Regions from separate parts of the Homo sapiens genome. Here region 1 is linked to region 2. Evidence: fine-mapped expression QTL. A gene starts in region 2. The other region holds a variant in brackets. All regions are shown on one strand. Distances are between the middles of the regions. Region 1 overlaps DZIP3 (DAZ interacting zinc finger protein 3). Region 2 holds the start of CIP2A (cellular inhibitor of PP2A).

Region 1 (4,401 bases), 25 kb before region 2:
TTCTCATATGTTTGCTTTTAAGTAGTCCGATGAATGTCGTTTGTAACTATTTCCTTAAAACAATTTTAAATTTTATTTTATTTATTTATTTATTTATTTATTTATTTATTTATTTATTTTTGAGATGGAGTCTCGCTCTGTCGCCCTGGCTGGAGTTCACTGGCGCAATCTCAGCTCACTGCAAGCTCCGCCTCCCGTGTTCACACCATTCTCCTGCCTCAGCCTCCTGAGTATCTGGGACTACAGACACCCACCACCACACCTGGCTAATTTTTTGTATTTTTAGTAGAGATGGGGTTTCACCATTTTAGCTAGGATGGTCTTGGTCTCCTGACCTCGTGATCCGCCTGCCTTGGCCTCCTAAAGTGCTGGGATTACAGGCGTGAGCCACTGCGCCCAGCCTCTTTAAAACATTTTTTAAAAAGGCATTCCTATACCTGCCAAAGGGTTGGCAACATCCACACCTACTTCAGAGGAAAATGGTAATCCCAGTTCACTCTCATACCTTCTATTGTGTGACATAGCTAAAATATTCCAGCCCTGAACCTGTGGTAAACAGGAATGCTGGCATTAATACCAATACAAGGGTAAACCATTTTATGCTGCAATCTGATTGCAACTGAGCTAATGCATGCTTTATTATGTACTATAGTTTATTTACATGGTTGAAATGAAAGGTAGGACTATGTCTTTGTGTCCATTCCCCAATGTTTTCTACCCACAACGGCTTGGTTTATATTACATAATCTGTTTAATAATGTATAATCTGCATGGAAAATTTAATCTACACTTCCATAACTTGGTTTCCATATATAACATTTTCCTGTTTTTTTCCTAGCTGACTAGATACTTTATTTCAGTCTCCCTAGCAATCAATTTAATGAGCCTCTTCTCTATCAATACATGTTCTCTAGGTAAAGTAACCCAGTATCATAATTTTAAATAGTGTCTACATACTGACAGTTTCCAAATTTACATTTCTAGCCAAGAACTTCACCTACATTCCAAGCTCAAACAATATCTCTTGAATTTGAATAGAAATACAAAACATAATACTGAAGTTCCACCTCTGTCAAACAGCCTAGGTGGTTTCAAATCAGTCTCCCAATGAGAATAACTAAAACAACGGGACAAGATATAAAAACTAATTATCTGAAAGCAATGGAAAACTACTAACACAATGAAAATAAAAACCTCTGAAAGGCAATCTCTGGAGAGCTGACTTTTGACTGACTTTTGGAGCTACTTTTCTCATTAAAGTAATTGCCATATTCAGTTGTGGCACAGCCTTCAGCAGATTTGCAAGGCTTGGGGGAAAATTGGAGTGCATGGTCTATAAGGAGGAGCAGCCCTGGTAAACAGCCCATTCTTTTCATTGAGGCCCTGTTTTTGTTCCAATGGAAGCAGACCATAATTAAAGGATTTCAATGGAAATAGTTTATTTGGGAGGTACAGAGACAATGGTAGGAAAGTGGAGAAGTAATAAAGTGAAGGAAAAGTAGGTTTTAATTAAAGGATGTGTTATTATGCTAGTTACCCATGGTGGGCCACTGCGGTTATCACAACGGGGAAATTTTGGAAAACTCAAAAATACAAACCTCAGTATTAACCAACTCAAGGGAAGAGGCAACTGGGATATTCATATAATAACTCCCAAGACCTACTGATTGAGTGCTTTCTGGGGTGATGGGGGAATATTAATTCCTTGGGTCTTCTGAGCTGCCATGAGAAGTAGCTTTCTCCTGTTCTAGAAAAAAAGGCCCTGAGGCATAGAGATATAGACATGGAAAACTAGAATTGTCCAGAGCATACTGAAAATATAGGTAGGGTCCAATTGGTATGGGGGGGCAATGACAGAATCTGCTACAAAAGGTAGAGAAACTGACCCTTCCTCAAAAGAACTAAGTAAAGGTTGGAATCATTTCTATCCCAGGTTGAATTAAATAATTTACTAGAAAAGCAAAAATAAGAATTACTAGAAAAAAATGTGTCCAGTTTTTCAAGTTCTTCACAGAGGCAGGTTGCTATGAGACAAACCAGGTAGCTACTCCAAGTAGCAGAATTATCTCTATTATCTTCAATGACTACAGTATTTGTATTTATGTTTTCATGTTCATTCATGATTTTGGATATTTTTGCTTTCGGTTTTGGACATACTTATTACGCATTTGTCAATTTGATTGGTCTTTCCAAAAAAGCAAGTTTTGGATTTATTGATCCTTTCTATTTTATGTTTTAAATAGATTTCATTAGTTTTAACTATCCTTATTACTTCCTTTTCAAGTGCTTTTAATTTGCTGTTCTTCCATTAACTTCTTGAATGTCATGCTTAGATAACTGATATTCAACCTTGCTTCTTTTTCTAATATTTACATCTCAAGCTATAAATTCTCCTTGAAGCACAGCTTTATCTAATAACACAAGATTTGATATATATTTTTATTCAGTTCAAAAATGTATCTAACTTCTATTGTGATTTCTTCTTTGGCCAATTGGTTACCTAGATTAGAGGTATATATCTTACCTTATGAACATACGGTTTTCTAGATTATCTCTTTTATTGATTTC[T/C]AGATTAACTGAAGAGTAGTTAGAGAACATACTCTGTATATTTTGATACTCTGAAATCTGATGGGGCTTGCTTTGTGACCTAGCATATGGCCAATTTTTGTAAATGTTCTGTGTGCACTTAAAAGAATGCATAATCTGCCACTGTTGGGTGCAGTGTTTATACATGTGTGTCTCAATTAGAGCAAGTCTGCTGTAGGTCTACTAATTCTGTGTCCATGTTATATCAGTTATAAGAGAAGTATGTTAAAATATCCCACTGGGATTGATTTGTCTTTTTCCTTTAGTATTATCTATTTTTATCATCTTATCATTCATAAAGGTTCTGTATATATTTGGTCCTACTTCTGGAACTTATCTTCTATTTTCTAGATATGTCTGAGGTATAAAGAACAAGTAACACAATCTTTTAGTTATTAGAGCTTCATAACAACTTTTAATGTTTAAGTGGGCAAATTCCCAGCCCTACTCCTTCATACTTTTCTTAAATAATTTTCTTGGCTATTTTTCCTCTTATTTCCCATGTGAACTTTAGACTTAGCATTTAGCGACACTAACCAAAAAAATCCCATTATTTTAGTGGAATCATGCGATATTTGTGGATTTTAATTTATAGAAAATTGACTGCTTTAACATACTGCGTCTTCCTACATGTACTATTCCATTCAGGTCCTCATTTCTTACCTTTAATAGAGTTTTAGAAAGTTTTACTTATTGTTTTAATATGCAGTATTGATTTCTAAATTTAATGTGAGTACAATCAGTGCTTAGGTACTTACTAAAACACAAATTCAAAGACCTATCCCCAGAGATTTTGATTCTTTAGAACTGGTACAGGGGTCAGATATTCTCATGTAAGTGGTTTAGAACAAGCTTAAAGAAATACTAGTTTATCTTGTACATTTCTTAAGTATTTTACTCAGTATTTTACTTTTGTTATCATTATAAATAAGTACAGTTTGCCCTCCATATCCACAGGTTTTGCCTCCATGGATTCAACCCACCATGGATTGAAAATATTTGATAAATAAATAAATAAATAGAAAGAATACAATAATTTTAAAAAATTGAAAAGACAATACAGTATAACAACTATTTACATAGCATTTACATTGTATTAGATATGTAATACCTAGATGTAATCTAGAGATGGTGTAACACATACGGGAGAATGTGTACAGGTTGTATGCAAATACTATGTCATTTTACATAAGAGACTTGGGCATCCTTGGATTTTTGTACCGGGGGTGTCCTGGAATTAACCTCCCACAGATACCAAAAGATGACTGTACTATTCTTCTATTTTTACCTTCTAGTTGCTATTTTTTGCATATCTGAAGGCCACTGATTTCTGTCTTGTTGTTTCTAAGTGATTTCCAAAAGATAAGAGGGAAATGGTAGCATTATTCTATCAATTTCTAGCCAGAATTCACTTATACTGTGGTAAATTATCTCGGTTAAGGTTATAATTGTGCATAAAGTCTTATGAATATCTTCAGTTTGTTGGAATTTTTAATCATAATAGTATTAATGTGTTTCATGGAAATAACCATATATTCTTTCATAGAAAGACAAATGTAGCCTTCTCAAGACAACTATGGTGCTTTACCCTTCTCTTCTCTAGTTAATTGCCACAAAGAAAAGAGTATATAATTTTCTTTAACTTCAGAAAACTCCATTAAGAAATGGTATCTTTCTTATGCTGAAAGTTACCACAAATTATACAGAAAAACTACTTTCAAGATGGAAATCTACAATATAGCTTCCAGAATATTTATTATACAAATAATTCCAAATATTTGGATATGATTTTTAAAAATGCATTTTTGACAAATG
Region 2 (4,401 bases):
ACATCAATTTTGGTGAAGATTTTTTGAGAAAGACATTTGATATTAATTACAGAAGAGAATACAAAATTTGTATGACTGCTTAAGTCAAAATCCAACAAAGATGGCACTGATAGCACGCAGCTTTGCGCATTACCCTGGGCCTCTGAATGGGGACGATGCTGACACATCATCACAGATGAAAAGTCCAACACTATCAAACTCTGATCACTTCATTTGCCAATGAGGCACTGACTGTAACACTGAGAACTTAATTATGCCAGATGACAGCTGACACTTTACATTAATTCATTTTTTAACCATCTCCAAGACCGTATAGGACCTCATCTCTACTCCTCTCCTCCTCGTTCTTTCTACACTAGCCACATGGCATCCTTGTTTCTGGCATACAGTATCCCACTTTAGGGTCTTTCTTTGCCATTTCCTCTATCTAAAAACCTTTTCCCATAGAATATGGCTCCCTTTCTCAACTCCTTGAAGCATTTCCCCAAATGTTGCTTTCTTAATGAGGTCACCTTCCCATTTCCCTTATCAATTACCAACATTATTCTAGAGTAATAACGTCTATTTTTCTCTTTATATCATTTTCCTTACTTATTTATTGTGTTTATTATTTGGTTCCCTACCAAAATGTAAGTTGCATGCCAGTAGTATTTTTGTTTTTTTCACTGAGTCTATTGTGTCTAGAAAAGTGCTTAGCACATTGTAGATTCTCAATGAACTACTTATTGAATGAACAGTCCTATGAACCAGGTATCTCCCTTGGCCAGATTTTACCTAATGAAGATTCTGCAGCAGTGAGAACTTGCCTAGAGTCACATCGTCAAAGGTGGAGCTAGAATCTGTAAGCAACCTGGCTCTCTACTCTTTACCACTGCTGCATGTTACTGCATGGTGCCTCTCATTTATGTGGTGAATTTCAAAAGTACTATTTTGTATGTTTCCCTTACTAGACAGTTCCCTCGCAGCAGGGGATACTACTTCATCTCTGTTCCCTGACTGGCAGTTTCTAACCCATGTTACACGCTCTATAATTGTTTACGGAATGAATGAAAGCATAAATGAACACACAAGCTACCCAAAGATTTTTACATGAATGTCCCAACTGGTTAAATCATTTTTATCTTTCAGATTTAAACTTTTATAAAAAACAAAACCAAAACACCAAACCTGTCTTCAAAAATCTAGTAATTCAAAAAAATTCTTTTGAAGTGAAAAAACATGATTTCTGATAAACGATTTAATTAAATGGAAATGTACCCTATTCTTACAATTTCTACATCCTGGTTTTTAAAGCTTTATTCGACGTTAGGAAATATTAAGCAAAAAGCTCCAAAACCAGTAACTGACTCGCTTCATTACATACACATGCAATAATATTAAGCTATCTCCGATTTAAAAAACGCAAATAATAGTGCCATTTTCGTAGACATCGAGAATTATAAAACAATCAATCATGCCAGAGAGAAACAGACACCTTCACTTACAAAAACTGACGCTAACGAGTAACACCCTCCGGAGCAATACCTGGCCCAGGGTCAGCAGGAGGTAGTCTTCTCGAATAAATGTGACAAATACTTTGGTCAGGGCATGACTAATTTGCCACATAATGCCAATAGGTTGACTCTGAGAAACTACCATCCCCGGGCAGAAGGGGCGGGTGTAGGAGAGATTTAAAAACGAGGCCCCTCCCAGGCCGCCTCAAAATCTAGGGCCCAAGATTCTTCTCCTCAGAGCTCCTCACCGTGTCTAGACTAGGGGCAAGCGACCATTTCTCAGGTAGAGGATGACGCACAAACGAAAAACTGGCCATCCAACATGAAGGACGAGGAAGCGCACGAAATCAGAGCGCACAGCTGAGTGAGGAATCCCCCTTCTCCTAACCGATTCCTCTCCCGAGAAATCGCGAGATTTCTCGCCTTCACGGGATCTCAGGCCGAAACCTCGCGGCCTCTCAGACGAGGGTGGGTTAGCGGGGGCAGCTCCCAACCCCCGTCCTGGACCCACAAATCACCTCGACCCCTGGCCCACCCCGGCCGTCACCGAGAACGGTCCCCTAGGGTGCCTAGGGACTTCCGGAGCCCGACCGGATCCGGAAGCTTCTGAGAGCGAGGGGGTGGGGCCGAAAATCAAAAAAAGCGCGGCGAAAGCTAAAGGCCGGCGCACGCTGGGCGGTGGTGGTCCCTAAGCCGGGCCGCGGCCGGTGCAATGGACTCCACTGCCTGCTTGAAGTCCTTGCTCCTGACTGTCAGTCAGTACAAAGCCGTGAAGTCAGAGGCGAACGCCACTCAGCTTTTGCGGCACTTGGAGGTGAGAGGCTCTGGGGTAGAGGACAGATGGGGCTTCCCCTAGCAATTCTTATTTCACAGTGAGGCCGAGGAGTGGCGGCCCCAGCCTGGGAAAGAAAGGACAGTCCTTCGATCCCTCTGTTGTCTTTTCGTACTGGTAAAGGCTAGTGAGTGTCGGGGTTCCGCTGGCCGCAGCGAGAGGCAAGAGCGCTCACTGAAGGCTCTAGGAAAAGCGGGAGTGGGGCAAAAGGTTGGGAAGTTCAGGTTGTTTCGAGTAGGTAACGGAAAAAGCTCGGAACTTTATCTTTTCCTTTGCTTCTAGTTTTGGTTTTTCTACGAAACCAAGCCCTCAATACACAACTATTCTCAGTGACGGAAAGTCATGATTAAAACTTGGTTTTGCCCTTCGGTAATCTATAATTGAATTTGTTGCTTACTGCTCTTACTTGAACTCGGGTTGAACTCAAACTTGAAAAACATTATTTCAACATTAAGAAGCACTTCCCCTTCCTAGTAAGCGTAATCCTTTTTCTTTACCAAAATACATTGCTTACAGTTTTTTAATCTTAGAATGCTGAATTGCCTTTTTTTCTATTCTAGTGATATGTGTCCAGACGATTCCGTTTGTTTTAGGATCTTAATCTTCTGCTTTCATTTGTTTTGCATTTACGGAATTCAAACTAACATTGACCTCAGTTTAATTTTTTTAAAGCTCAATTAAGGCTTATTTTAACTCTCTGTGTCACAGCTTTCCTCTGTTAAGGTAGAATTGAACATAATTTTAAAATATATTGTATTATATTAACCCTATGATAAAAGACTAATGTGCCAAAAATTTGTAAAATATTACAGGAAAAAAATGATTTCCAGTAGTAGAGCAACAGCAGCTGTTAGTGAAGCTGCTGTTGTATTAAATGTGTCTGTCTTATCTTGAGCTTCACTGGTGCTCCTCTTTTCCCTACTTCAAGTGCCCATCTCCTAAGTACATTTGTTTTCTCTTTTTCATTCTTTATTTTAAGAAGTGCCTGCAAACCTAATAATTAAGGTGTTAGCTGTTAAATGCTTAAGGCTTTGCTTCTGAATTAGCATAGGCTCCAGAAGCCGCAGAATAAGCAGGGCAGTCCGTTTAATTTAAAAATCGGGAGTTAAGCATTTTGTATGCTATTCTGAAGCATTACCTTTCTTTGAATAAACAGGAAGGTTGTGCACTGAAAGAGATTTAAGGCACAGGGGCTTACACCTGTAATCCCAGCACTTTGGGAGGCCGAGGCGAGCGGATCACCTGAGGTCGGGAGTTTGAGACCAGCCTGACCAACATGCGAAACCCCGTCTCTACTAAAAATACAAAAATTACCTGGGCGTGGCGTCTCTCTGTTGTCCCAGCTACTCGGGAGGCTGAGGCTGGAGAATCGCTTGAACTCGGGAGGCTGAGGTTGCATAAGTAGAGATCGCTCCACTGCACTCCAACATGGGTGACAGAGTGAGACTCCGTCTCAAAAACAAAACAAAAAAAAAGAGAGACTTAAACAAAATATGGGATGGGGTCTTTACTGTATTCCTAAACTTTCAAGGGGTTTACATAAAACTCTTCTACCGTTGTTGCAAAGGTATGAAGAGCACTGGCTTCAGGTTACTACTAAAAAGGACTTTTTGTAATTAAGAGATAAAATACATACAGAGCATAAAGTGCATTAATCTTAAGTGAAGAGTTTGATAGTTTTTAATATATAGGTACCATAGCTACCATATTGGTAGCTAACATATAGGTAGAGTAGCTACCACCTGTATCATGATACAGAACATTTCTAGCCCCATAGGGTTTCTTCATTGCCTCTTCACATAAGGTTTGGGTAAGTAGACTCATACAATATGTACTCTTGTGTCTGGCCTTTTCCACTCAATAAAATCTGTGAAATTCATGTTGCACATGTACCGCTACTTCATTTTTTTTATTATTGATGTGTAGAATTCTATTGTATAAGTGTACCACAGTTTACATACACTTTCCTGTTGATAGGCATTTGGGTTGTTTACATTTCTGGGTGGAATTAAGAATAAAGCTGTTGTAGACATACATTTTTTGTGGATATATGCACACATTTATATACTTAGGAGT

Evidence for each region. PIP is the estimated chance that this variant, and not a neighbour inherited with it, causes the effect. A credible set is the group of variants that fine-mapping cannot tell apart.
Region 1: its variant is the best candidate, but not a certain one, in a credible set for the expression of CIP2A in whole blood (INTERVAL, PIP 0.82).

What each region holds. Positions count from the first base shown.
Region 1 is chr3:108,611,984-108,616,384 of GRCh38, reverse strand. All of the region lies in intron 4 of DZIP3 (DAZ interacting zinc finger protein 3), which reads right to left. Among named protein-coding and RNA genes, the nearest start is that of DZIP3, 24 kb to the right of the region's middle. The variant T/C (reference allele first, on the strand shown) is at 2,569.
Region 2 is chr3:108,587,180-108,591,580 of GRCh38, reverse strand. It overlaps CIP2A (cellular inhibitor of PP2A), which reads left to right and starts at 2,143. Exons shown (of 21, transcript NM_020890.3): 1 at 2,143-2,307. The coding sequence starts at 2,206. DZIP3 (DAZ interacting zinc finger protein 3) reads right to left here and starts at 1,859. Exons shown (of 33, transcript NM_014648.4): 1 at 1,742-1,859. RefSeq lists an enhancer at 1,665-1,944.